Homo sapiens: one gene and its partners. Each later gene encodes a partner of the first gene's protein in a complex. Each region holds a gene or a part of one and is shown on either strand. Other genes may lie near its edges.

Region 1 (7,356 bases):
TCAGCTTAGGTTTCTGGTGAACTTCTTTCATACGAATGTTGCTGTTTTACCTCACACTATGTTAACAACTCCAAGTTTCCCCAAATTTTCGTTCCACTTAGTTTTAAATGCAAAACAGACTTGGTTGTAGATAGCCAAATATTACGTGCGCACGCACACACACACGCACATACACACACACAACCCCCCCCCCCCCACCCCGCCCCTGACAGAGGGTGTTCCAGTCATTCCTTAGCCTTTGTTCACTTCCTAACATGCCAGCAGGCTCCTTCTGCCTCAGGGAAGACACAGACACTGTTTGTCTGACTGCAATCCTGTTCTCTTTGCCTGGTGGACTTCTCCCACCAGTATTCTAAATGTTCCAATCACATGCTGATTCCCTTTATAGCACTCACCACAGTAATTATTGAAATAAAGATGGTAAAACCTTAATTTCATCACCTTTTCTTTCCCCTGCCCAACTCCCAACACACCAAAAGGTTTACATAAGCACTACTAAGTAAGAGTGGCAAAATTTTTAAATTTAGAAATTTATTCTGTTTAATCCACAAGCTTTATATAGCTTTAGTTTAAAAAAAATCAAAACAAAAAAAAAATCAAAACAAAAACAGTGAAACCAAGACACTATTCCAAAGTCTGGGCCCTTCCAGCCTTCCAAATACAAGAGGCTCTGAAAGTTGTATATACCAATTGGAAGAACAAGACAAAAATATGAACAGAGCCATGACATTTCATTAAACAAATTGTATGTAACTGAAGGATCCTTTCTGGGACTAGCTCATTGCCTTTACAAAAGAAAAAAAACAAAACAAAAAAAACAAAACCAGAATAACAGAATGAGAGTCCAGTGTTCCAAATCAACTTGTTACACATCAATATAAACCCACAGTGTCCTGGCAAACAACATGCTTTCATTTTCTGTCTCATCCTAGAGCTCGAATCCTGATTCATTTCAGCAGAGACTCCACAGGCAACAGGAAAGATTGTGGCATTAAAATATTCATTTATACTTTTGTGGTAGTTCAAAACAGTGGTCTTATTTCTGGGCAAGCTTACAGACCATACAAGGTCAGAAGCATAACTTAAATGGGAGCTAAGACTCAAATGAAAAAAATAAGAAGAAGAAAGAAAAACAAAAAGAAAATCAAAACCAAAAAAACAAACAAAAAAACCCCTCTGGGAATAGCTAGGGCATTTAAAGGAACCATAAAAATGCCAACAGTATTTAAACCCCCTTTTTTAAAAAGGGAATTTTTTTTTGGCTTAAAATATTTCACTCAATGAATTATGTCAGCTGTCAATGAAAGAATGTCACTAATACACTGTGGACACCTTTTGCAATGTAAATCCATGCCCCCTTTTTTTACATGTTGAACTTCAACCTAGCAATTATTACAACAAATGTTATAGTCTAAAGCTCAAACACATTTTAGCAATTTTGAAATTGAACTGCGTACAAACCAAATAAAATTTACATCATAACAAACATTTCCCCCTAAGACTGTGGGGACACTTGGGCCTTCCTCATTGATCTCAGGGCCTTTTCACGCAGGTGCTTTTCTAAATCATCAAGGTTATCTTCAGCTTCACTTTCAGTCTCCTAAAAAAAACAGAATTTACACGGTTAAGTCTTGAGACCCTGGTGGGAAATGCCGAGTAAAGAGCAGAATCAAAGTGTGGGAGGGGAACATCACACACCGGGGACTGTTGTGGGGTAGGGGGAGCAGGGAGGGATATACCTAATGCTAAACGACGAGTTAATGGGTGCAGCACACCAACATGGCACATGTATACATATGTAACAAACCTGCACATTGTGCACATGTACCCTAAAACTTAAAGTATAATAATAATAAAATTAAAAAACAAACAAAAAAAAAAACCAACCTCACAAATCTTTTGAGTACTGAACTGTATGCAAATATAATGGCCACTGTGGATAGTTAATATTTTAAATAAATAAGTCACCTTTATAAAAAAAAAAAGTGTGGGGATCGCTGCACAACTGATATACTAAAACCCAGGGAACCACAAACTTTAAATGGGTGAACTGTATGGTACGTGACTTTTATCTCAGAGTAACTGGCTAATTAGTAGAAAAAACAATTTTGCTACTTCTCAAAACAAAATGACTTTGCTATCTGTACGTAAACTGCAAGACAGCCATATACAGAGTTCATAAATACCTTCTTCGGCTCTGGCGCTGCCACTGGCTCTTCCTGTGCTAATGTGGTTGTGGCAGCTGCAATGGCTGCAGGGGTCACAGCAGCTGCAGCAGCTGCAGCCACAGCCTTTTCCTTCTTGTGTTTTTTGTGCTTCTTGTGCTTCTTATCCTTTTTGTGTTTCTTGTCCTTCTTTTTCTTCTTTTTCTTTCCACCTCCTTCCTGATCTGAATTCTAGGAAGAAAAAAAAACAACACCCAGCATTTATAATCAATCTGATTAATATTCTGTCCAACTGAACATTTTATTTCCTCAAATCCCCAATGGACAAATCTCAAGATTTCCGAAAGGCTTTGGAGGGTGTGAGTGGGGAAGGCCCAAGGCCAATTATCACCAAGAAAAGTATTCAAAAGTCAGGGGCTATCTCCAGGATGAGCTCAATTCCAGCTCCTGAACTATTTGACCTTAGACAAATTGTTGAACTCTTTCTGAGACCTTTTTACCTAAAATAAGTGTAATAATCCCTACCTGATAAAGCTCTTGTGAAAATTAAATGAGAATATCTGTAAATCACCCATAATACTTGCCTAACATGTAGCAGACTTTTAATAAATGGTACCAGCCATTAGTCTAAACACATGCCTGTATGAATGCCATGTCTCTAGCTACCATCTGAGCTCTCCTATCTTTAGAGTGGGGATGACTGGTTCTTCCTCATGACACACATACCAAATTTATGCAAAAAGCAGGCTCCTATAATTTAATCCATAATATTTCAATTTCACACTTCTAAGCAATTACTTAAAATTCCTCACAAGTTAGCTTGCACAACTATTCAGTCAACCCAATTAAATATGGACATCTGAGGCCACAGCAGGAGGATCACTGGAGGCTAGGAGTTCAAGATCAGCCTGGTCAACACAGCAAGACCCTGTCTCTACAAAAAGTTAAAAACAAAAAACCAGCCAGGTGTAGCAGCATGTGCCTATAATCCCAGCTACTTGGGAGGCTGAGGCGAAGGGATCACCTGCGTCCAGGAAGGCTGCTGTGAGCTATGATCATCCCACTGCACTCAGCGTGGGTGACAGCATGAGACCCTGTCTCAAAAACAAACAAAAAACAGATGGACACCTAACCACTGATTTTATGCAATACAGAAACCTGCCCAAGATCAGATGTATAACTCACAAATGGGAAAAAAAGTTTAAACACCAATATTTTAATGCCCCAATGACATTTTCTCTGCTTCAAAGTGACCATATACATATTTATAAAAGGGTGTCCAAAATAAGGCAGACACATACTCTTGGCGGTGATGGGCTCGGTGTTGGGCTTTTGGCCTTTTTGACCGGTACAGCTGGTGACCAGTTTGTAGACGGTGACTGAGACTGGACGGGGGATGGAGGTGCTGGGGGCTTTTTAGCTGCTGGCTCAGGAGACCCGGAGACAGATCGGGAGGATGAGACCCTTCTTACAGACTGTGGGCTTGGGGAAGCAGCCCTAGACAAAAAGGAAAAAACATTCAGCATTGAGAACAGCCATCTCTCTTCACATGAGAAAACCACCAACTACACTGTACAACCAGGTTATGAATTTCAAATATACCACTTAGATTGCTGGTTGATTCAACTAACATATATCCAATTTACATTACCTATGTTTCCCAGAGGGTGGCTAAAGCCCCATAATCCTCTATCTATTCTGTTAATGATGCTTCTTATGTAAGATTAGTAATGTCAGTTCCTTACATCACACACAAGAAATGTTCAATGTCTTACTCAAGTTTAGTTTTGGAAGCATACCCCTCAAAAACAAATTAATAACTGCTAAGAACCAAGTAAAAGCCTGTGGCATTTAACTTATACCACAGAAACTATCCCAAAAAATGGAATAAGATCTGTAAATAGTACCTCAAGTTTGACTTAAAAGCTCATATTCATAACTTATTCCTTTTATATGGGGGTGGGGGGAAGCTTCCAAATATAAACAGCTATGTAAGTATTCCTAATGGAAAAGCATAAAATATTTTTACTTTTTTATCTTTTTAGGTTCCGGAGTCCTGGAGACTCTCCTAATGGGCCTAGTACTTGGAGACGGGGACTGCCTTCTTTGGGGTGATGACGACGCTCCTCTTCGAACGGGTGGAGGACTTGAGGAGGTCTGAGGAGCTCGAGGCCGTGGTGAGGGCGAATGCCGTTTGTTTGGTTGTGGTGATCGGGCCTCCCGGGTAGAGCGGCTTGGGGAAGACCCTTTCCTATGCTTGGATGATAATGAAGGTGAACGTCTCTTGGTGACTGGGGAGCTTCTTTGTTTGGGAGGTGGAGAATGGGAGACCCGCCGCTTTGGTGGTGGAGATGGTGATGCTCTTCGTTTAGGAGGGGGAGGAGGTGAAGCCGTTCTTCTCTTTGGAGGTGGAGAAGGAGAGTATCTCCTCTGTATTGGAGGAGAGTATCTTCTAGGAGAAGGTGAGCGCCGACGTGGGGGAGGAGAAGGAGTCCTAGGAAAAAGATACATAATTAAGCTGAAAGGCTCAACAAAATACAGAAACAGGATGAAAAGTAATCAGTAGGTTTGGCTATACTGTAGTTAGCACTAGGCAAAGGGAATATATTTATAAGTGAACATGCTATCTTTATATTCTCACTTAAATATCAATAAAACTTGTTTATCTCAGCTGACTGCAACACAGGACACTGTCTGCAGGACTAAGTACAAAAAAGAAAAAAAGACATTTTGATTAACAAAAATTTGCAATTTTCAGAAGATGTGAATTTGTCAATCTTTTAACATCTATACAAAATTAACGTTTTTTGAAAACAGAATCTTGCACTGTATTAACTGAACATCAGTTATTATATAATAACCAAGTAACTGTATTAGCAAAACTCTATTATGGTCACCTTAGGAAGTCTGCACTTTAAAGAGGTCTCCTATGTGGTATCCTCTCTGAATGAGCATTTGGACACTGTATGAATAATTAAGAGTTCACTGCACAAGCCTTAAAGACACTTCTACCTCCCCTCAAAGAGACTGTTCCATTTTCTGTCTCAAAAGGCCACTTTTCAGGCCAAACTGCCTAATTTCCTCTTGGATATTGCAGACTTTTAGATCAAAGTAAATTCCTGCCCAGAGTTAGCTTTACAATAGGCCATATATTTTGGCAATGTGGTAGGGCACAATTTCATCACTGTATCTGGGTAATTACTTAGTAATTCTCAACTCCCATTTCCTCACCTGAAAAATGCAAACAATACCAACTATCAAGCAAGGTCGCTTTGAAGACTAGTAGTAAAGCATATAAAGCACCTAGCACTTTGCCTGGCACTTAACAGGCATTCAAGAGTGGCAGCCAGGCTGGGCAGAGTGGGTCACACCTGTCATCCCAGCACTCTGGGAGGCTGAGGCGGATCACCTGAGGTCAGGAGTTTGAGACCAGCCTGGCTACCATGGTGAAACCTCATCTCTACAAAAAATACAAAAACTGGCTGGGTGTGGTGGCAGATGCCTGTAATCCCAGCTACTCGGGAGGCTGAGGCAGGAGAATCGCTTGAACCCAGGAGGCGGAGGTTACAGTGAGCTGAGATCGGCCACTGCACTCCAGCCTGGGTGACAGAGTGAGACTGTCTCAAAAAAAAAAAAAAAAAAAAAAAAAAAGAGTGGCAGCATGTCATTACATTGCTTGGCAACATATCCGAGCAATGACATTAAAACATTTTCCCCTAATTTTCACTTTAAAATAGTTGTAAAGAAGAGCTACAAAAATAGGAGATTTGCCACTTCACCATGCTAATATTTTATATAACCATAAGAAAATTAGCAAAACTGTAAAATGAACCTCAGTGATAACTTAGTATTACTAAAATAGCAAACAACCCAGTTTTCCACTACTGAATGTCCCTTTTCTGTTCCAGGACTTAATCAATGTTCCTTTTCTGCTCCAGGACCCTACATCTCTTTAGTTCTTGCCAATCTGTGACTGTTTCTGTCATTGTCTTTCATGACTGACACTTTTGAATACTGGTCAGGTATTCTGTAAAATGACTTTCAATTTGGGTTTGTCTGATTATTTCCTAATAATAAGACTGAGGTTTGGCATAATTGGTAAGCATACTACAGAGGTATCCAGGAAATACACGATGCCAATGTTTTATTGAGGATGTTATCTTTGATTATTTAGGTAAGAGATATCTGCCAGTATCCTCTAAATTTTCTCTTTACAATTACTAGTCAATACCATCTTTTAATGTATTAACATCTTTATGACAATACATGATTCACCTGCTATAAAATCTACCTATTTACCCATTTAAGGTCCATTTAAAGTATACAATTAAATGATTTTAGTATATTCATATAGTTCTGCAGCTATTACCATCCCCATGTCCACCCCACCCTAATCTGTTTTCTATCTCTATAGATTTGTGTATTCTAGACTTTTCATATAGATGGAATCATACGTGTTCTTTTATGACTGGCTGAACAATGCTAGTCTGCTTACTCTAATAAGATATAATCATCAGAAAGATTCAGAGATCCTTTTGTAGTTCATAAGCATGATGATTGGGTTTTCACATGCACACATGAGCTGTGCCTCTCTCCAACCTTGTTAGGAAGTGAGCACCATTACTCATCTGATGTTATCAGGGGCGGGGGGAGTTGGGGAGATGCTCCAGTTAGCATATTTGACAAAGTACCTTCGTCGTGGTGGTGGTGTGGGAGTCCTGCGCCGTCGAGGAGGAGGGGCGGGAGAAGGAGACCGTCGCCTTCTGGTGGGTGGTGGGGATGGACTTCTCCTCCGTCTACCACTAAACCAAGAAGAATTATAGTTAATTTTTTTTCTTTTTTTTGTGTGTGTGTGATGGCGTCTCACTCTGTCGCCCAGGCTGGAGTGCAATGGCATGATCTTGGCTCACTGCAACCTCCGCCTCCCAGGTTCAAGCAATTCTCCCCCCTCAGCCTCCTGAGTAGTTGGGATTACAGGCACCCATAATCATGCCTGGCTAATTTTTTAAAATATTTTTGTAGAGACGGAGTTTCACCATGTTGGCCAAGCTGGTCTTGAACTCCTGACCTCAGGTGATCTGCCTGCCTCAGCCTCCCAAAGTGCTGGGATTATAGGTGTGAGTTACCACGCCTGGCCTATATAGTTAACTTTGAGTCAGTGGCATTTATAGTTAAGTGACCCAGAAGACAC
Region 2 (7,876 bases), on another chromosome or scaffold:
GTACATGGAGGAAATGAGTCAAGACTATAGGAAAAAACTAGAAGAAACTACAGGATAAATTAAAAGTTGATGGTAAGGCTCTGGGGTTGCAGATTTTTAAAAATTTACTGGCAGTTTTAGAATGCTAGTAATATAAAGTAACTGTTTTAAAATGTACTTTTTTCCCCCTTTAAAACAAGGTATTGCCACCCAAGCAAGAGTGCAGTGGCTCACTGTATCCTCAAACTCTTGGGCTCAGTCAAACCTCCTACCTCTGCCTCCCAAGTAGCTGGGAATATAGGTACGAGCCACCATGCCCAGCCACTGCTACTTTTAACATAATTCAAACAGCAAGAGATTTATCGTGTCCACAAAATTTAAAATGTTTCCTAAAATATTTATCATTCAGGGAAAACATGAGAGGATTACCTTGTCTTTTGACTGTCCTTGTCGAGCAATTGCATCATATTTAATTTTTCCTTCAGAATCCACCTGAATGGCCAGCGCATTCGACATTTTTTTCTTTCGTCCCATATCCAGTGGATACTGGGCCACATGGATCTCTGGAAAAGCACCTCCATCTCCAAAATCCTACACATTAGAAGTAGTTAAATAAAATAGTTAATCATCATTTGACATTCAAGATATATTCATTCATTCAACAAGTAATTGTTGAGTCCTTAGTATGCTAGATGCTAGAGATACAGCAGAGTTCCCTGCCTCTTGTGGAGTTTACATTCTAGTAGGCAAAGATATAAAAAACACATTCTTTGGCTTGTGATAAGTACCATGAAGGTAATATAAAAGAAAAAGACTGGGAAAAGGGGCTACTTTTGATAGGGTGGTTGGGGACAGCCTTTGTGAAGAAGTAACATGTGAGCTAAAGCCTGAATGATTAGAAAGCAGTCATGGGAAGACACACACACACACACACACACACACACACACACACACACCACACACACACACACACAAAGCATTTTCTAGATGGATCAAATAGCCAATGCAAAGGCCCTGCTGCAAGAATGAGCTTGGTATATTTTAGGAAATGAGAATTCAGTGGGGCTAACAGCTTAATAAGGACAGCAGAGCTTGAGGCACAAGTTACATGAGTAAAAAACACCAGATCACAAAGGGACTTACATGCTACAGCAAGAAAATGTGGATTTCATATATGCAGGACGAAACTAAGTAAAATGGCTAGGACAAGGCAAAATATATGTGTATATATTTTAGCATATAAATACATATTTTAGTGAGGAACAGGTAAAGCTATACTTGGGGCAGAAATATAAAAGATTTTTTCTTGGAATCAGATTTTATTAACATATTATTTATTCATTGTTATGTGAGAAGCAAATGAATACAATAGGAAGGATCCAGAAATGAGTTTACTACATTTCTACTAGTGATTATACATAATTATTTAGGAGAGAGAACTGAGACTGCTAAAGTAGAACAAGCTAAATAAAGTTTGCTGATGAAATGTAGTATTTTAAAAAGGTTTATCAAATAAACATGAGGATCAAGTATAATTTTTAAGTAGTTAAAAAAAATTCAGTAGTATTTGCTTAGTACACTTTAAACATGATTCACACATGTATTATCTCATTTAATCCTTGTAACTCTTTAACATCATTTTAAATGGAAACATTCAGGCTTAGAAAAATTAAGCGGTGTTCCTGAGATCTCATAGGTATTATATGCAGCACCTGAACCCAGATCTTTTGAGACTCCGAAAAGCTTTGTATTTTCTACTACTATGAAATACCTTTCTTTTAGCTCAAAACAGCCAAATGAGTACTATTAAGAAATAATAGAAAACACAAATTAAAATTAATCATTTAGAGGGGGTTTGATGGAAAAAAAAGAAAATATTCACTTTTACAAGACCTCTTTAAGTAATACTCCGTTAGATCTAAGATATATGAGTTCCTAAGTACAATATGCTTATTTGCTAAAGAGATGTTTGAAGTTTTTGAAAACCAAGAGAATAAAGCTGAGAGACATTTTCTTGTAAATGAGAAAGAGTTAAAGCATTCCTAAGATAAGTGCTTCCCGTACCCAAGCCATCAATCTGACACATGCTTGGATTTGCTAGAGTTTTTCAACTATAATAAGTACTTCAGAACTGTAGCTGTAGCATTATGTGGTCATTAAGCTTGCCAGAAAATCATAGCTTTTATTTTGAAAACTAGAACAAAATGCCTTCTTCCACAGAACATTCACTCCCCTCAAGCAGCATCCATAGCATTTCCAGATTAGCTAGCCATTTCAACTTGATTTTCAAATAAGTTGTTCTGTTTCACCAGGATATATGAAACCACTGATAGCCAAGTAAGAATCTAAAAATCTAATAGCAACCAAGTATCGTAATGCTGAAATGCATGGATGAGATTTACATTCTATGTAAGATGATGCCTGTCACCCTCATTGTGCAATGTACTGACAGACCAAACAATATTTATAATGCCTCAACAGAGACACTCAACTGCTCTATTAGATGATGCCAATCACTACTTTTTTGCCCCAGGTAAGACTCCTTGATAATCTTTCATCTTCCTCTGCCTCCCATAAATAACACTATCAGAGAGAACAAAAGCAACAAAAATCCCTTAATAATTGCAATATGACTGGCCTTCACACACCAGCATTCATAAGGACCAGAGGAAAGCTGACAAAAAAGCAACAAAAAGACCTACATGTGGGTTTTTTGGAATACATAGGACAAGATATGATCTAGTTGGGTGTTCCTCTTATAAACTCTAATAAAGAGTGTGGGGCAGGCGCGGTGGCTCACACCTGTAATCCCAGCACTTTAGGAGGCCGAGGCAGGTGGATCACCTGAAGTCAGGAGTTCAAGACCAGCCTAGCAAACATGGTGAAACCCTGTCTGTACTAAAAATACAAAAAATTAGCTGGATGTGGTGGCACGTGCCTGTAATCCTGGCTACTTGGGAGGCTGAGGCAGGAGAATCGCTTGAACCCAGGAGGCGAAGGCTGCAGTGAGCCAAGATCGCACCACTGCACTCCAGCCTGGGAAACGGAGCGAGATTCCATCCCAAAAATAAAAAAAATAAAAATTAATTAATTAATGTAAAGGATCCTGAGTAATTAGAATAGGTGCTGCCAAGGAAGCTTGTTCTTTTTATTTTTATTTTTTATTTTTTTTGAGATGGAGTTTTGCTGTTGTTGCCCAGGCTGGAGTGCAATGGTGCGATCTTGGCTCACCACAACCTCTGCCTCCCAGGTTCAAGCAATTCTCCCGCCTCAGCCTCCGGAGTAGCTGGGATTACAGGCATGCGCCACCACACCTGGCTAATTTTGTATTTTTAGTAGAGACAGGGTTGCTCCATGTTGGTCAGGCTGGTCTCGAACTCCTGGCCTCAGGTGATCTGCCCGCCTTGGCCTCCCAAAGTGCTGGGATTACAGGTGTGAGCCACTGCGCCCGACCGGAAGCTTGTTATTTGGCAACAAGCTAGAGATAGAAAGAGCTATTCCAGATGGTTCCTTCTCCCTCATTGCCTTCAAATCAACCAAATTTTGTCTTATACCCGCAAAAATATATTTAATCTATATATCAGATATATATTAACATTCTCAAATTAAAGGTAAGAAAACAGGTGAAGAGAAAGAAATCAGCAAAGGAAGTGCTACTGGAGTTTTCCCTGAAGGAAAGTTGTCTCTTCAGGGTTATGTGGTATTATCGGAGGGGAGGAGGAGGAGGAGGAGCCCAAATATGAAAACCACTTTCATCTCTCTTATCTTTTACTTTCCCATTATTTTCCGTAATTCCTGAATTTATAAAATATTAGTTTTCTTGTAAATATTTAATAGTTTGATATAGGAATAGACAAATGGTACAGTTCTCTAGTGACCACAAAGCAGTGATAGATAATAAGCAAAAAGAAAATGATACATCTTCTGAGGGAAATATACATCTTGAGAGCACATAACCAGAATTTCTATCACACTGACATTCATAATCAGAGGTTCTAACATTTAAATTTATGTTATAGTGTGCTATAATAAATTTCAGCACAATTTAACAAATCTAAACTTAAGATCTATATGTACCTCTAATAACCGAGGTATCCAGCCTTTCCGGTATCCGTACGGGGGAGGTTCTCTTCGGGAGGAGACCAGTGAGGTCTGCCGTGATCTCTGGGATCTTGCCTTTTCTTCAGCCTCAAGCTGGTCCTGAGATAGCTGAGTAGGTGCAGGTAAAAAGCTATAAGCAAAGATAATAAAAGTCAGAAATTTAAAAAACTCTTATGTTTAATTTGACCACTGCAACTTGGCCACAGAGACAATTTTTCCTACGATGCTTTTACTTTTCAGAAAAAGAGCAGATTTTTCAATGATTTATGGTAGTACTCAATACTAGCCATTTTATAATATGTGGAAGACAGAAGTACTCAAAGATACACAGTAAAAACATCTGACTAGGACAACAGCAAATGATGTCCAGAATAAAAAATTAACAGATATTTCACATAACAGACAAACTCTTAAGCGTTTATGCTTCCATATTTCCTTTTTTTTTTGAGAAAGAGTCTCACTCTGTTGCCCAGGCTGGAGTACAGTGGTGTCATCTCCACTCACTGCAACCTCTGCCTCCTGGGTTCAAGTGATTTTCCTCCCTCAGCCTCCCAAGTAGCTGGGATTACAAGCATGCGCCACCACACCAGGCTAATTTTTGCAATTTTAGTAGAGATGGGGTTTCACCATGTTGGCCAGGCTGGTCTTGAACTTGACCTCAAGTGATCCGCTGACCTTGGCCTCCCAAAGTGCTGGAATTACAGACGTGTGCCACCACACCTGGCCATGCTTCCGTATTTCCATATTTCTTTCCTTTTTTTTTTTTGAGACAGAGTCTCTCTGTGTCACCTAGGCTAGAGTGCAGTGGCACCATCTCAGCTCACTGCAGCCTCCACCTCCTGGGTTCAAGTGATTTTCCTGCCTCACCCTCCCAAGTAGCTGGGATTACAGATGTGCAGCACCACGCCCACCTAATTTTTGTATTTTTAGTAGAGACAGGGTTTCGCCATGTTGGCCAGGCTGGTCTCGAACTCCCGACCGCAGGTGATGTGCCCGCCCCGGCCTCCCAAAGTGCTAGGATTACAGGTGTGAACCACCACGCCCAGCCTGTTTCCATATTTCTTATAACAAACAAGTAAACATTCCTAATACTTCAGGGATAAACTGTCCAGTATATACTTGCTATTCTTATACTCCTTTTTTTTTTTGAGACAGAGTCTCGTTCTGTCGCCCAGCCTTGAGTGCAGTGGTGCAACCTCGGCTCACTGAAACCTCTGTCGCCTGGATTCGTGTGATTCTCATGCCTCAGCCTCCCGAGTAGCTGGGATTACAGGTGCATGCCACCACATCCCTATTTTTTGTATTTTTAGTAGAGACTGGTTTTTGCCATGTTGGCCCATGTTGGTCAGGCTGGTCTCGAACTCCTGACCTCAAGTGATCCATCAGCCTCCATCTCCCAAAGTACTGGGATTACTGGCATGAGCCACCACGCCTGGCTACTCCTTGTTTTTAACATTTTTACCATTATGCTCCTTACTTTAAACTACTTCAGTGTAAATACAAAAGAACTAGGATTAAAACTGAATGTAAAAAAGAGGTGGATAAAATAAACACAAGTTGCATATTTAAGTGTCAAGGGTATCTACAATGAAATTTAAAACTTAGAGGCCAGGCCAGCCATGGTGGCTCACACCTGTAATCCCAGCACTTTGGGAGGCCGAGGTGGGTGGATCACTTGAGGTCAGGAGATCAAGACCGGCCTGATCAACATGGTGAAACCCTGTCTCTACTAAAAATACAAAATTAGCCAGGCGTGCTGGTGTGCGCCTGTAATCCCACTCGGGAGGCTGAGGCAGGAGAATCACTTGAATCCGGTAGGTGGAGGGTACAGTGAGCCAAGATTGCACCATTGCACTCCAGCCTAGGCAACAACAGCAAAACTCCATCTCAAACAAACAAACAACAACAAAAAAACCCTTAGAGGCCAAAGAATCAAAGCAGAAGCCCTGAAGATGCAGCTTATTCTTTAGTCAAGGTAACCTTTCTACTAAATGGTTCTTAACAACTTTTAAGTATTAAAGTATTACAGTGATACTCCAAAGTATTACAAAAGGATCCTGATGGATGAATATGGAGAAAATAACCTTAGTTCCTTTGTGATTCTTGGATAGTAAGCATACCTAAGTAGCAGAGCTTATTAATTATTCAAAAATATTTATTATTTGGGTACAAGCACTATGCTAGGCATGAGACTATAAATGGAGAAAGACAGCTTAGTCTTGCAGACAGAGACCAAAAAAAAAAAAATCACACAAATCTATAATTACACATTATGTTAAGTTATGATGGAAAAATATAGATGCTATGACAGTCTACATGAGAGGGATCTAATCCAGTCTGGGGAGGTAAGTGATGGCTAGGCTCAGAATTCAGATCCGACCTATGCCACTTACTAACCTGGATAAGCTACTTACCTCTCTGAATCTGTTTTCTCATCTGTAATAATAGTTCATAAGAGTATCTACTTCATAAGGTTCTTATAAGTATTAAATGAGAGAAATCCATGAACCAGTTGGTATAGTATCTAGACACTTTCAATACAGGTTCTGTATGTTTGATTATTTCAGGGCTGTTCCATGACTCCTCCAGTTTGGGTTAACTGCCTGTCTCTATGCTCCCCCAAAACGCTCTACATACCACTACTACAACATTACCTTACTGTATTGCAATCATCTACTCATTTAACTATTCTGTTTTCATGAGACTGTGAGCAGCTCTGCAGGAATCACGCCTTATGCTTCTTTCATCCCTAATGCTCCAAGACTTCTAGCTCACAGCTCGAGCTCCTTAAATGTTGTAGGAGAAATAAATACACTCTTCCCCAGCACTCACCATCTTTATTTCACTACAGCCTTCTTATCTTTTCTTAAACAAGCCATCTCAGGATCTTTACATTGGCTATTCCTTCTGCCATCAAATCAATCTAATCATCTATCTATCTATCTATCTATCTATCTATCTATCGCAATCAATCAATCACAATTTTTCTCTATTGCAATCAATCAATCACAATTTTTCTCTATCTATCTATCTATTGCAATCAATCACAATTTTTCCGGCTGGGCGAGGTGGCTCACACCTGTAATTCCAACACTTTGGGAGGCCAAGGCAGGTGGATTACTTGAGGCCAGGAGTTCGAGACCAGCCATGCCAATATAGTGAAACCCTGTCTCTATTAAAAACACAAAAATTAGCCGGGCGTGGTGGCGGACGCCTGTAATCCCAGCTGAGGCAGGAAAATCACTTGAACCTGGGAGGTGGAGTTTGTAGTGAGCTGAGATTGCTCCACTGCACTCCAGCCTGGGTGAGAGTGAGACTCTGCCACAAAAAAAAAAAAAAAAAAAAAGAACAAATTTTCGTATGCTTTTATAGAAAATTCTTCTCCAGATCTCCAGATCTTTTCTTTTTTGATTGCTCCTTGCTGGGCAGGGCTATCCCACAGGCAGTATGCCTAGAGTAGCCCCAGATCTTTCAACAGCTTGCATCTCAGCACTCTTGTCTCTGCTCAGTTACCTCTCTCTAGAGCTGTTTTCTGACCACCTTACCCAAAATAGCCACTTCACCCCAAACTCTGAGTCACTCTCTAACCCGGTCTTTATTTTATTCCTAGCATGTATTACGTGAAATTGCATTATGATTTTACTCACTCTGTCCCATTAGAATGTAAGCTAATTAGAATTCTGTCCCACTAGAATTCCAATTCTGTCCCATTAGAGTGTAAGCTCCATGTGGATAGAGTATAAAATTAAAACAAACTCAGTTTCTCCTATTATTTCACTCAACAATCAACAACACA
Region 3 (7,876 bases), on another chromosome or scaffold:
TCCTCTTGATGGCTTATGCTGTAGCTCATACCATAATGAATACCTGGCAAGACCTCTTTTTGGTGATTTGATTTTTTCAGGCTGCTTTTCCAGTTTCTGTGTTTTTGTCACAATTATTCACCCTGTGTATCTTATACTCTTTACTACTACTTATTTTTCTTTAAAGACAAAGTCTTGCTCTTTTGCCCAGGCTGGAGTACAGTGGCAAGGTCATAGCTCACTGCAGCCTCATACTCCCAGGCTCAAGTGATCCTCCCACCTCAGCCTCCCTAGTAGCGAGGACTACAGGTGTGCACCACCATGCCAAGTTAATTTTTAGAATTTTTTGTAGAGACAGGGTCTCACTATGTCTCGCGGGCTGGTTTTGAACTCCTCTCAAACAATCCTCTACCTCAGCCTCCCAGAGTGCTGGAAGCAAGCCACTGTGCTGAGCTGCTGGTCACCCTTCCTACATTAACAACTATGGATGTGCCAATCAATGCTGAGATGCTCTGATATGCTCCCAAGAATCTGTTTCCACAAATCACCACAAAACTACTTGTTGTAGCCAGTATACGAGCCAAGGAAGCTGGCCACTAGGATCCCCTGAATTACTTTTTTTTTTTTGAGGTGCAGTCTCGCTCTGTCACCCAAGCTGGAGTACAGTGGCATGATCTCTGCTCACTGCAATGTCCACCTCCTGGGTTCAAGCGAATCTTCTGCCTCAGCCTCCCGAGTAGCTGGGACTACAGGTACATGCCACCGCACCCGGCTAATTTTTTTATTTTTAGTACACACGAGGTTTCACCATATTGGCCAGGCTGGTCTCGAACTCCTGACCTCGTGATCCGCCCGCCTTGGCCTCCCAAAGTGCTGGGATTACATGCGTGAGCCGCCGCACCCAGCCCCTGAATTACCTATGACTTTATCAAGGGAAAGAGTCACCTGTGTTGTTAAAGCTGAGCTGATGACAGCTCCACAAATGTTAACTGAACAAAGTGCCACACTATGTGCCTGTGTCTGAAGATGAATGAGACACAATCTGTGTGTTCTCGGAGCTTCTCCAAGGTGAACTTTTCTGGGGCTTAACCTGCAACTGGCCAGGAACAGCAGCTTAAAATCTCATCAATAGCTGTGCTATTTCAAAGTACTGGCATTCTCCCAGGACATCCCCCAGGGTGTCAAAATTTAGCCAAAGCAAACTTCAAATGAACACAAAGTCCTTATTTTCTCAAAGAAAACAAAACAAAACAGAACAAAAAACCCCCCAGATTTATTTAGCTTAAACATTTCCCCTGATCTAAAGAGAAAGATGGCAAAAGATACCTAGCATATATGCACAAGCACCCACTCCAATGAACTCAGATAACCTGAAAGAAAAAAGGACAAAGTTCTGTTCAACTTAGAAAATTATCTTCGCTTTTGAAAGATGTTTCCACGTCCCATTCCACGTCCTCTTCCTCTTGCGGCCACTGAAAGGGAAGAGAAAATATGAGGCCAGGTCAGTGTGGTCGGTGAATGCTCATAGCACAGAGTAGCCAGGGCCCTAGGACACCAGTTAGAAGGGTTCTGAAGGGTTACCTGGTCCAACACCACCCTGGCCATTGCATTTCCACCTCCCGCCTTTTTTTTTTTTTATTTTTTGAGACGGAGTCCCACTCTGTCACCCAGGCTGGAGTGCAGTGGCATGATCTCGGCTCACTGCAATCTCCACCTCCTGGGATTAGGCGATTCTCATGTCTCAGCCTCCTACTTGAGTAGCTGGGACTACAGCCGTGAACCACAACGCCCGGCTAATTTCCTGTATTTTTAGTAGAGACAGGGTTTCACCATGTTGGCCAGGCTGGTCTTAAACTCCTGACCTCAGGTGATCCACCCACCTCGGCCTCCCAAAGTGTCAGGATTACAAGCATAAGCCAACACGTCCAGCTGACAGCCACTGCATTTAACAGGGGGGATGGAGACGGAGGGGCAGGGGCTGGGGACTGGCATCAAAGCAGGAGCTAGCAGCACACTCTTGCCTTCCAGTCCCACACTGCTCTCTACAAGAGGCTGGGAGGCAGCATGCTGAGGGCAAAGAAGGTGGTCTGAGAGCTACAGAAAAGACAAATCCTTGGGGCTGGCCTTGGGTGAGCTGAAAAACATTATAGATGCACTGAATTAATTTTTTCAATTCTGAAACAAATATAGTTAAGTGTTAACATGTGTTAGATCTGGGAGAAGGGTTATATTATCTTTTGTATTTTTTTCTGAGAAAATAATTATTTCAGGCTGGGTGCAGTGGCTCATGTCTGTAACCCCAGGGCTTTGCGAGTCCAAGGCAGGCAGATCACTTGAGGTCATAAGTTTGAGACCAGACTGGCCAACATGGCAAAACCCCTTCTCTACTGAACACACAAAAATTAGCTGCACGTGGTGGTATGCGCCTGTAATCCCAGTTACTTGGGAGGCTGAGGCAAGAGAATCACTTGAACCTGGGAGTTGGAGGAGGTGGCAGTGAGCTGAGATCAAGCCACCGCACTGCAGCCTGGGTGATGGAGACTCAGTCTCCAAAAAAAAAAAAAAAAAAAAAGAATTATTTCATAGTAGCAAAAAGAAAACACACTCCATATAAATAGCATGATAAGACTGCTGTTCTCCTCTGTAACCCAGGGGTTCTAGGAGAAGACAGGCTTTGAAGAACAAATAAAATATTCTTTTTTTTTGAGATGGAGTCTAGCTCTGTCACCTAGGCTGGAGTGCAGTGGCACGATTTCGGCTCACTGCAACCTCCACCTCCTGGGTTCAAGCGATTCTCCTGCCTCAGCCTCCCGAGTAGCTGGGACTACAGGGACCTGCCACCATGCCCAGCTAATTTTTGTATTTTTAGTAGAGACGGGGTTTCACTGTGTTGGCCAGGCTGGTCTCGAACTCCTGACCTCGTGATCTGCCCACCTCGGCCTCCCAAAGTGCTAGGATTACAGGCATGGGCCACTGCGCCCGGCCCCTCACACTATTACATCTTTAAACTTGAGCTTTCATCTATGGTTCCCAGCTCGTAACTCCTATAGTCCTTGTTATAGTCTTTTGTTATAACATTGGGGCACTTTAGGCCTCAGAAGCAGGACTCAGGAGACAGAATCTCTCTCTTGAAACTTCTCCTGCCCTCCTTTCACCTGCCCAAGGCAGGACCCTAATCTGATTGTGGGTCATAAGACCTCACTCCAGAGAAAGGTCCTGCCCTATACCCTGGAGGAACAAATGCTGCAGAGAGAGGCCAAAAAGAATCTGGACAGGCCTCGCGGGGTTTCCCAACCCCGTCTATTAGTGTTAGATCACACCCATTTTGTCTAATGGCATTTCCACATGGTTGTCCATCCTTTAATCATGACTATCCAATAAAGTCTCCATAAAAGGCCCAAGAGGGCAGGGTTAGGGGAGCTTCGGGACAGCTGATCATGCGCAGCCTGACAGGAAGGTGAACAAGAACTCATCCATGTGCCGGGAGGAAACTCCATGGGGCTAGAAGCTCTTGTGCTTGCGACCCTTCCAGATCTCACCCTATGCATCTCTTCATGTGGCTGTTTATTTGTAGCCTATAAAATATCCTGTTATAAACCAGTAAATTTAAGTATGTGATTCCCGAGTTGTGTGAGCTACTCCAGCAAATTAATCGAACCCAAGGAGTGAGACGTGAGAACCCTGGCTTGAAGCCATTCAGATGTTCTGGAGGCCTGTGCTTATGAATAATAGTGGGGGGTGCAGGGGCTGTCTTGTGGGACCGAGCCCTCAACCTGTGGTTTTTCAGGCTATCTCCAGGTAGATAGTGTCAGAACTGAAGGACACCCAGCTGGTGTCTACTGCAGAACTGACTGCTTGCTTGGTCACAGAAGTCTTTGTTGATTGTTGTGTTGTGAGAGCAGAGGAAAAACACAGTTTGACTTTTTTCCTCACACACATATAAAACATGTACAGCAGCTAAAGATACCAATGAAGAATCCAGTGCCTTCCTTGGCTGCAAACCTTTTTTACCAACACTAAGACAGTTTCCAAGGGCCACAATTACTTTGTTGTCTAATCAACATGACAGAACTTTCATGAACCTAAATATAAAACCAAATTAGGCTAACCAAGAAGCAAGACCAGACTAGGGGACTGCGAAAAGGACAGTCCCACTTTTGGAATGTACTAAAAGGTGGCTTTATTTCTGAAAACGGAGCTCCACTATCAGACCTCCCTAAGTACATGCTGGTGTCCATCCATAAGACCCAGTCTCGCTAGGAAATGCTGCCCTCACACTCGAGTCAGCTCATCTGCTCCGGGCTGTGTCTGCTCGGCAAACTAGACAAGGGCAAGCGATCCCACACCTCTCACACAGAACTTCTAGAAAAGATGGGCCTCTCCAGGTGCGGTGGCTCACACTGGTAATCCCAGCATTTCAGGGGGCCGAGGCAGGTGGATCATGTGAGGTCAGGACTTCAAGACCAGCCTGACCAACATGGTGAAATCCCATCTCTACTAAAAATACAAAAATAAATAAATAAAATAAAAATAAGCCGGGCGCAGTGGCTCACGCCTGTAATCCCAGCACTTTGGGAGGCTGAGGCAGGTGGATCACAAGGTCATGAGTTCAAGACCAGCCTAGCCAAGGTGGTGAAACCCCGTTTCTACTAAAAATACAAAAAGTAGCCCGGCGCAGTGGCGGGTGCCTGTAATCCCAGCTACTTAGGAGTCTGAGGCAGAGAACTGCTTGAACCCGGGAGGCGGAGGTTGCAGTGAGCCGAGATCACGCCACTGCACTCCAGCCTGGGCGACAGAGCGAGACTCCATCTCAAAAAAATAAAAAAATTAAAAAAAATTAAAAATAAAATAAAAATAAAAATAAATTAAAAATAAAAAAATTAGCTAGGCAGGGCAGTGCGCACTGTAATCTCAGCTACTTGAAAGGCTGAGGCAGGAGAATTGCTTGAACCTGGGAGGCAGAGGTTGCAGTGAGCTGAGATCACACCATCGCACTCCAGCCTGGGTGACAAAGCGAGACTCTGTCTCAAAAAAATAAAATAATGGCCTCACAGGATCACTCCACGCTGCAAGGGGAAGGGGTGGCAGTGGGTGGTGGGTGTGGAGAGAGCAGAGGTCAAACCCTCTCTGTCTCCAGGCAGTAATAGGGCCCCTTTCTACAAGACACAAGACAAACCTATATTTTAAAACCTGTGCATGAAAAGCACCTACCTTGGGCCTTGAGAATAGCAGCTTTTCCTCGGCCAGCCCCTGAGCCTTGGTTTTTATTTTTCATGCTCTTTAACATGGGTGCGTTCTTCAGCATGTCAGGCAAAATCAGAAAGCGGATTTTGCTGCCACGGATGTATACCTGCTCCAGCTGTGCCACTCGGCCATCTCTGTATGTGACTGTGATGTTGGACATCTGGAAGGAAATCACCAGCTAATAAGTTAACGGTCAACAGCACCAGCGGTGGGGAGGGCCTTGACTGGTGGGAGGGGGAAGTCCAGAAAAGCAGACTGACATTGTGACAAAGCTGGTGAATTACCCAGCAATCATCGGTACTAACTGTGTACACCAGGGACTGCACTGAGCACTTTACCTAAACAGTCCTCACAACACCTTCAGCGTGGGTATGAGTGCTCCCCCCCTTTTTTTTTTGAGATGGAGTTTCACTCTTGTTGCCCAGGCTGAAGTGCAATGGTGCAATCTCGGCTAACCGTGACCTCTGCCTCCCGGGTTCAAGCGATTCTCCTGCCTCAGCCTCCTGAGTAGCTGGGATTACAGGCATGCGCCACCATGCCCGGCTAATTTTGTATTTTTAGTAGAGGTGGGGTTTCACCAGGTTGGACAGGCTGGTCTCGAACTCCTGACCTCAGGTGATCTGCCCGCTTCAGCCTCCCAAAGTGTTGGGATTACAGGTGTGAGCCACTGCGCCCAGCCGAGTGCTCCCATCTTTACATGTTAAAAAAACCAAAGCAGTTATCCCAGGTCAAACAGCTGGAATGCAGGGAACTCCAGATTCGAACCAGCTGGCCTAGCTTCAGAGCCCTGGCTGTGCTGCACTGCCTGCTGAGCAAAGATGTGAAGAGCTCTTGAAGGTGCTAAACCCTAACGAAAACAGCTTCAAACTGCTGGTCCAAACTGTCTTCCCCTGCACTGCCTGGCACTCAGATTTCAAAGGCACCATGAAGGTCACAAGTATATACCAGATGTGGTTCTGACCCTCCAGAGTGCATACTCTAGAAGGTGAGACAGAACCCTCTAGGTTGAGTGACTAGGGACTGAGAAATGGAGGTGGTACCACAAGGCCTGTAAAAAGGGCCTGAAATTACTGGAGGGTTATGAGGCAAGAGCTTGCACAAGGAAAAGAGCAGGCACTTGGGCAGGAGCCTACAGGATGTGAGGACCAGAGCAGTCGAATAATGACACTGGACGGGGTCGTTACTTCAGATAAAGGAGTCAGTCAAGTTTGTCGATAGAGGAAAGATCAATAGGGTTAAGGCAGCACTCAGGAAAGATAAATGTGGCAACAAGGATAGACTGCAGGATGGACAAATGGGGAGCCTGAAGGTGAGACCAGCTTGGCATGGGAGGGTGATACCAATCTGCCAGCATCAACCTCAACAAGCACCACATTTACAGAAAAAGCAGCTTATTGTATGAACCTTCTGAAGAGAGAGAACTATAATTTATTTAGAATGGGTCAGCCCTTATTGTAGAAAGATGTGCTGTCTCTGCAGATTTCTGTCTGGCTAGCTGCCATCTTATACTCATTCATTCTTTTCCTCAAGTGCTAACTGGCCACCCAGCCTCTGCTTGAACACTCAGAAAAGAACAACTATGGGCCAGGTGTGGTGGCTCATGTCTGTAATATCAACACTTTGGGAGGTCAAGGTGGGAGGATCACTTGAGCCCAGGAGTTTGAGACCAGCCTGGGCAACACAGTGAGACCTCATCTCTACAAAAATTAGCTGGGTGTGGTGGCATGTGCCTGTAGTCCAGCTACTCGGGAAGCTGAGGTGAAAGGATCACTTGGTTCTGGGAGGTCGAGGCTGCAGGGAGCTGTGATGGAGCCACTGCACCCTAGCCTGGGCCACAGAGCAAGATCCTCTCAAAAATAAAACAAACAAAACTATGCTCTGGGGCCGCCCCTGTTGTATATGAGCAGTTTCTAGAGGAATGGTTTCTAGAGCTTCTACCCACTATCCCTGTTCTACCTTCAGGGGCAACAGGGCTCCAGTTTCTCATAAACCTTCTGCTCCAGGCTCCTCACTCCCAGCCTGTTATTAAATTTTCATCCAGTTCCCAAGTCCTTACCAATCCTTTTCTTCCCCTGAAGAATACCATAACCTCTAGTGCCACAAATGAACGCCAGGTTTATGGTCAGACTACCCAAGACAGAAACTGGATACAACTCAGGCTCACCTGAATCTGACTGACAATTAAAATGTGTTTTGGGGCTGGGCGCGGTGGCTCATGCCTGTAATCCCAGCACTTTGGGAGGCCGAGGTGGGTGGATCACCTGAGACCAGTCTGGCAAACACGGTGAAACCCTGGCTCTACTAAAAATACAAAAATTAGCCGGGTGTGGTGGCAGGTGCCTGTAGTCCCACCTACTCGGGAGGCTGAGGCAGGAGAATCACTTGAACCCGGGAGGTAGAGGTTGCAGTGAGCCAAAATCACGCCACTGTATTCCAGCCTGGGCAACAGAGCAAGACGCCGTCTCAAAAAACAAAAAACAAACCAAACAAACAAAAAACGTGTTTTGGGGACTGTGCCACACTCATGACTCTGTAGAAGACACAAAATAGGCCTAAAGACCTATAGGTGAGATCCAGCTCTGCCATTTGTCAGAAGTGTAACCCTAGGTATATCTCCAGGCTTCCCTGAGCCTCCGTTCCCTCAACTACAAAG
Region 4 (6,772 bases), on another chromosome or scaffold:
GTTTTATCTATTTTTGTACCAAAAAAATCAGTATTTATTATTTTTCCTTATTAACTTACCAATTCCTTTTTTCAAAAGAAAAATGTTTAACACATTTTCATTATTTTTTTTTTTTGCAATTGGTTGAAAAAATGTAAAGTGAGGAAATAGAAATAAGTTTATCAAAAACTCTAAGAGTTTGGCTGTAAGAGTAGAGAAATGGGTGTATTCCTAGAGGGAAACAATAGGTTTAGTGTTTTTTTTTTCTAAGAAGCAGTATTGCAACCTATTTGTTGATGACACTCATTTAGGGCAGAGGGAAGAAATTCATGGTACAGGAGAGAAAGAGTTTAATCATGGGAGCAAGGTCCTTGAGTGGGCAAGAGTGTATGGCAACAACTGCACAGAGGGAATTGTTGTGAGGCAGATTGCTCATCCTCTGTAACAGCAGGCAGAAGGCATTAACTATGGAAATGTGTATTTGGTCATTATTGATGGCCCACTTGAGATATGTGGTTATAGACCAAGAATGAGTCCAGTCAGTGGAGCTGTTTTTCTTTGGTAACATTTTATAGCTTGACTACACTCAAGCTGTACGGAATGGGCAGTGGAAAAGATTTGAGCTTAACCCTGGTTGGATGTCTGTCAGGTAAGTAAAAGGGCACATGCATGAAATTCTGCATCTTTCATAGGGTTCACAAACACATTATGGTATATGAATTAATGCAACAGAGGATTCAAGAACACTGTAATACAGGGCAGCATGGAGCAGGGAAAGAGATTTTTTTTTAATGCTTTTCAGAATTTGATACGTATACCTAACTTGAACACAATAGTTGAAGCTTTGCCAGACAGGTCGGTAGGGGCTTTCTCATCTCCTTGTACTAGTAATTTCTTCTTGGCCTTTAGAGATGGAACAGCATCCACCTCTGATTTTTCTTGTTAGAAGGCATATCAGAATCTCTCAGGAATGCAAGTGTAGTGTTCTTTTTTCTTTATTTAAGTTTACGAAATACATGCTTATAGAAAATTAAAACATTATAGAAATATGTAAAGCCACCCATGAAAGTTCTTCCATAATTCTGCTTCCTAACAAAGCCACTGTTAGTAATGTGGTGTTACTTATATTTTAGAGCATCAAGTTGTCCACAAAAATGCTTGCACAACTTTTTTTTTTACCCAAGTTTAGAAATCTTGCCCTAATAATCCAGACATTCCTCACTCTCTTAACGAATACTTAGAAACAAATTGCATAAAGGTACCATCTATTAAACCAGTCCCTTACTGACAGGGCATTTGGGCTAGTTTTAAGTATTAAAGAACAAAGGTGCAATGACTTTGCTTGTGTACACTTGTCAGATCATTCCCATTAGGCAGTTTCCTAGGAATGAACTTAGTAGGCCAAAAGGTTCAAAGTTTCAATAAATCCCAGAAAACTACATTCCTAAAGGCTGTGACAATTATACTCCCACCTATGGCATACAAGATGGGTAATGTAATTGGAAGTGCTTGTTCAAAATCATGGTGCAATTTTTTAATTTGGAAAATTTAAAAAATTGACTGTTCTTATAACTGTGTTTTCTAATTATAGAAGGTGAAGTCTGACAAATCTTGATTAATGGGGAATCAGGATCCCAGGGCAGGATTTATAAAACTTGTATTTACCAAAAAGAGGCATCAGTATTAGAAACTTTAAAACTTCTCTTTAAAATCTCCGCAAGATTGCAGCCCTTGCTACAGCTTTAAATAGCTGCACTGGTATCTCCAGTTATTTTCCCCAAGTTTCAATACCAGTATTGGTATCCTACTAGTTGAGGAATAAAATCCATACTTATATGAGCTTTCCCCAGAACAAGCCAGCTTTAGTCCCATTATTCGACAGTAGCAGAACATTCTTTGTCCCAGAACACACCGCACACTTTCTTGTGCCTGGTTTCATCACTTTATGCCTCATCTCTTTTCCTTCTTTGTCTTCCTTCACTTCAAGGTAATCTCCAATGCCACTTACTCTATGAAGTCTTCCACAATCCTTCCTGAGAAAAATAAATGGTCTTATCCCTTCTGTTCCCCCAGCATTTCACCTGCACCTCTGTTACAGAATTTCTATACTAAGCTACCAAACTGGAAGTCTTAGAGGATAGACACATCTTACTTGTCTATTTCCTGAACAGTATCTAGTGCAGAACTTTGTAGAACATACACTCAAAAACTGTTTTTGGAATAAACATACATAAATTAAGACTTCAAATCTTTTAATCTCAAATTATTAGTCACAGATGTTATTTTTTAAAGGACTAAAAAAAAACTACTGCTCCTTCAAATGTCCTAATTATCGGTTTCATACATTTTTTTTAAAAAAGGGGGTTTTCTAATAAGACTGTCAAAATATTACATCTAGAATAGTTATGTTCAATAAACCTGCATTTACTTGATATCTGCATCTTCCTAGTATCACAAATTGTTTTAGAAATAAAAACACAGGGGTAGGGGACAGGGGACAGTTTATTGTAAAATATGAAGCAGCAATGATTGAAGCAAGTGAATTTCTCCTTTATATTCCCAGCCAGAGCACAAAATGACTGGATATCCTCATGAACGCCAAGCTTTTTTTTTTTTAATTAAAAAGAAAAAAAAAGAGAGAGAAAAAATTCCACATTCATTAAAATCTCTTTCTCTTGATAATTTCTGGTTTCCAGCTGACTGGATGAGTTTCTTCTGTCTAAAAATAGAAAAGTGAGTTAAAATAAAGTATTATTAGTTTGCTTCATGTCTAATAGGCTTCCTTTCTAACAAAAATAAGGTATCTAACATTATTCATTGGCTTTATACACTTAGTTCTTTGACAGTTTTAGGAAGAGTTGATAAACTTCTGGCATTATCCAAGTCTAATAACAGATGGATGGATTCATTATGTTTAGTTTGTAGTTTTCCATCTAAAATAACATTTCTACTTGGATATTCTACTAACACCAAAGCTTATGATTCTCGAATTAATTTACATAGCAATCTATTTATTTGCTGTTATTCTTGGTGCAACATTTCCCAGCAACTATAACAAAGGAAGTTGGGATAAAATTAAAGCCATCCATGGATTCACTGGCATCAGTGAAACAATATAGAAATATATAAATGGACACTATTCAAGAAGACAGATATCTTAAATACTATAAAGATTATTTTTCCTTCTGATAATTAAATGAGAATATGCTGCCAAATTGGTATAGCTGTTTTACTTAACGAATGTGAAACACAGAACTTACGGCTGTGTCATCCTCTCTGTATACTTTAATGGTTTTATCAGCTTCAGCTGTTAGTAATCGACTTTCAGACTGATCAAAAGCACAAGCAAATATTCCTGATTCACTGTCCAAAGACCCAGGTTGCACAGCTGCGTGAACTCTCTGAAAATTGTAGCCAGTTCTCCAGTCCCAAAGATGCATGGTGCCATTGTCAGCTTAAAGGGAAAAATCTAGTTACACCTGGTATCCCCTCAGCAGTACAGCTTGACAAACATTTATGAAGCATCATTAGCCCAAGCATGGGAATACTACGGTTATAAAAATACATAAGACACAGGCACTCCACCTTCTCTTAATATTGGTTTGTCTACTTTCATTTGGGCTGGGTTCAGAACTTATAGATCTTAAAAAGCACCTGAAAATCTGACATCCAATTCCAGAATAATAAACAAAATTTTAAGCAATTCCCAGCATAAATCCCTGAGATTCATTAGATGGGAACTCAAAGAGGACTAAGCTATGAAATATACTACATGTAATATGAATATGCATGAACACACATAATAACATGCAAATATGCCCTAACCAGGCAAGTGCTGCTATAATACTTAAGTGTGACAGCTTAGAAGCATTACAAATGTTTATTCATCATTAAAAGAAAAAATAACAGACTAAACATATTTATTATAAAAATCTTATTTTACCTCCAGATACAAGCACTCCATCAGAATTTACCGTCAATGTGTTAATAATAGCATTATGACCGGAAAGATTTTGAATGAAACTTCCATCAGGGAATTTCCACTGCTTTATGTTATCTGGAGAACCAGATGCAAATGTGTAACTGAAATAATATTAAAAAGAATTAACGACAAAGTAAACCAAGTTAAATAAAGTGGTGGGTTTTAAAAAGTTTATTTCAGTTATATTTTGCAGTGTGTACTCAATGATTTATATATTCAGCAAAATAGTCGTATCAAAATGTAAAAATATTAAGACATTTGTTCAAGGTTAAATCAGACCTTCACATTTTTAACAGTATATTTTAAGTCCTAGATTAATGTTTTGTTCTCCTTTCATTTCCTTAATGCTCTGCACTAAGCCAGAGCAATAAATGTGCAGAAGCCCTATTTCACATGAAGGGCAATGTGTTATGCAACTCTTTTGGAGGGAGGGAGAGCAAGACAGGACAGGAAGAAAGAGAGAAAAGGAATAGAGGGCAAGAGGAAGAGAGAGAACAGGAGGGAGGAGAGGCGAAATGGGAGTGAGAAAGATAAGCAAAGGAAGGAAGAAGAGAGGGGGAAAAGGGTATGGAGAGTAGAAGACAGAGAAGAGGAAAGGAAGGAGAGGAAGAATCCAGAAAAGTGTCAGAGTGATCTGATACACCAAACAATAGTTGTGATATTATGCTCCACCTTTTTGGATACTCTGACTGTAATGTTCACGGTTCTTATTATTTCTGTTTCTACATATATTAACTTCCTCCTTAAGAATTAAACTATTCAATGAATGTCTCAGTGTCCAAAATCATTTATGTCCAAAACATTAAGCCTAGCCACTAATATCTTTTATTTTGACATGCAGCATTTAATCATGATTTACACTGTCTCATTTGACATTATTTATTTGTTATCAAGTAGAAGGCTTTCCTCATGTTTTATAGGGCATGAAGCAAAATAGTGCATGAGGAAAATAAAAGAAACACACGTTCCTATGCGGCACAGGCCTAGAAATGACAGCAGCTAAATGACTGCCAAAAGCAGTGCTAACACCACTAGCATTTCAGCATTATCTTAAGAACTGAAGAAAAACAAGAAGCTAATTAGGAAAATACACTTACTGTCTTGGATGTAAAACCACAGCCCTAACTGATTTTTTGTGATTTGTTAATGTCACTCTTGTTTTTCCAGCCACCAGATCCCATAATCGAATTGTAGTATCATGGCTTCCTGTAATGGAAACACATATATCCCTCAAAACATAGACCAGGAAAAATAATGCAAAAGTTAAATAAAATACAAAGCATTCTTCCAAAACACATATGTTCTAAATGAAAGTCATATCACACGCAAATTAGTCTTGGCTAATTTCTTCATAGTTCCAAATTTTTAGGTTGATTTTAATTCTTTAAAAAAATGCAATACAACAATTGATTCACTGTCAATTGAACAGCTAAAACAAATGCAAATAACAAATAAATATATAATTGTATACCCTAGTGAAAAGGAAAAAACTTCAATGATTTTTTTAAGTTAATAAAATACATCAGGCAAAGGAATTATTTTCTAGTATTAAAGATCCATTGTTACTAACTTTATTTAGAGCAAAGTAAGATTCAAATCAGTTCTAAAGATTACTAGTCTCAAGATGTTTTGTCTTCTAACTTCAATTTCTTAGAAAAATAATTTTGACACTATAAAATAATAATTGTTCATAACACAGTATTCTAGTCAGACATTACAGGATACTATGTATGGCATACTCTATGATATGTAAAAAGCATGAGGTAAAAACAGTGGAATGAAATTTCATTTGAATACATTTCAATTGTCCATGATTAAAATATGACACAGAAACACTGTAAACACAATACAGAGCAAGAGTCATCATGAATATTAAAAGTATATGTATAATAACATGGATTCTGACATGAATATTCTGTAAACTTGAAAAGTATCGATCATACCTGTAATAATTTGTGGTTCTGCAGCCTGACATCTCACTGTAGCAACTGCATTTGTATGTCCAGATAATGTGTGTACACTGGCTTTAGTTCTCACATCCCAAATCTATAAAAACACAATAGACATATTAGGAAAGAGAATAGGTATTCATTATCTCAAGAAGATAACTGGATCAATTCAAGGCTGAAAATTTACTACATAACTAGTGCCTGAATATAATAAAGAAAATGCTTAAGTGAAAGATAATGATTTACAAACTGGAGGACGAATATAAATAGGAGACAACTTGCAAGAATTCTAAAAAGCTAAAAGATCAGGGTACTGAAAATCTAAGAATGAGTATGATGGGACTACTTTTTAAGACTACTGAATGAAAGAACTAATGGACAATAGTTGTTACAGAATGGAACGTGAGAATATCACATTTCAGGGGCAGGGCACTAATAACACTAACATGGTGAGGCCATACAACTGAAGACTAAGGTGGAAAAAAATGCAAGTTAAGAAACTTAGGGACTAGGATATTGATGACTCAAGACAGCTATCTTTAATTCTCTATCAATCAATTGAAGACACTGAAACCGAAAGTGCACCCTACAAGATGCAATATATTTACAGATAAATACACAACTCTATCCCATTTACCCGTGCAGTTGAATCTCGACTACAGGTTACCAACACATCGATTGTCGGGTGCAAATCCAAACCATACACTGCACTTAAATGTCCATGATAATGCCGTATAACCTAAAGACAAAGCAGGAAAGTTAAAACTTCTAGAATTAGAAAGATAAATAGTAGTTCACAATGTTTTAAATCCTTAACTCCAAACTTACCTTATTGTATTCGAGATCCCAGCATTTCACTTGT

Evidence for each region.
Region 2: SRRM1 (region 1) and SNW1 share a complex: the UniProt entries of both Homo sapiens proteins name them as parts of the minor spliceosome.
Region 3: SRRM1 (region 1) and SNRPD3 share a complex: the UniProt entries of both Homo sapiens proteins name them as parts of the minor spliceosome.
Region 4: SRRM1 (region 1) and PLRG1 share a complex: the UniProt entries of both Homo sapiens proteins name them as parts of the minor spliceosome.

What each region holds. Positions count from the first base shown.
Region 1 is NC_000001.11:24,666,426-24,673,781, reverse strand, and holds the end of SRRM1 (serine/arginine repetitive matrix protein 1), read right to left. Parts: intron 6,968-7,356; coding exon 6,857-6,967; intron 6,800-6,856; exon of another isoform or gene 6,695-6,799; intron 4,660-6,694; coding exon 4,195-4,659; intron 3,663-4,194; coding exon 3,467-3,662; intron 2,397-3,466; coding exon 2,187-2,396; intron 1,601-2,186; coding exon 1,496-1,600; 3' UTR 501-1,495; downstream 1-500. UniProt on the Homo sapiens protein: Part of pre- and post-splicing multiprotein mRNP complexes. As a component of the minor spliceosome, involved in the splicing of U12-type introns in pre-mRNAs. Involved in numerous pre-mRNA processing events.
Region 2 is NC_000014.9:77,750,911-77,758,786, forward strand, and holds part of SNW1 (SNW domain-containing protein 1), read right to left. Parts: intron 4,211-7,876; coding exon 4,057-4,210; intron 571-4,056; coding exon 409-570; intron 1-408. UniProt on the Homo sapiens protein: Involved in pre-mRNA splicing as component of the spliceosome. As a component of the minor spliceosome, involved in the splicing of U12-type introns in pre-mRNAs.
Region 3 is NC_000022.11:24,565,491-24,573,366, reverse strand, and holds part of SNRPD3 (small nuclear ribonucleoprotein Sm D3), read right to left. Parts: intron 5,384-7,876; coding exon 5,191-5,383; intron 1,452-5,190; coding exon 1,390-1,451; 3' UTR 1-1,389. UniProt on the Homo sapiens protein: Plays a role in pre-mRNA splicing as a core component of the spliceosomal U1, U2, U4 and U5 small nuclear ribonucleoproteins (snRNPs), the building blocks of the spliceosome.
Region 4 is NC_000004.12:154,534,047-154,540,818, forward strand, and holds the end of PLRG1 (pleiotropic regulator 1), read right to left. Parts: coding exon 6,739-6,772; intron 6,650-6,738; coding exon 6,548-6,649; intron 6,008-6,547; coding exon 5,905-6,007; intron 5,168-5,904; coding exon 5,059-5,167; intron 4,063-5,058; coding exon 3,923-4,062; intron 3,434-3,922; coding exon 3,240-3,433; intron 2,699-3,239; coding exon 2,639-2,698; 3' UTR 959-2,638; downstream 1-958. UniProt on the Homo sapiens protein: Involved in pre-mRNA splicing as component of the spliceosome. Component of the PRP19-CDC5L complex that forms an integral part of the spliceosome and is required for activating pre-mRNA splicing.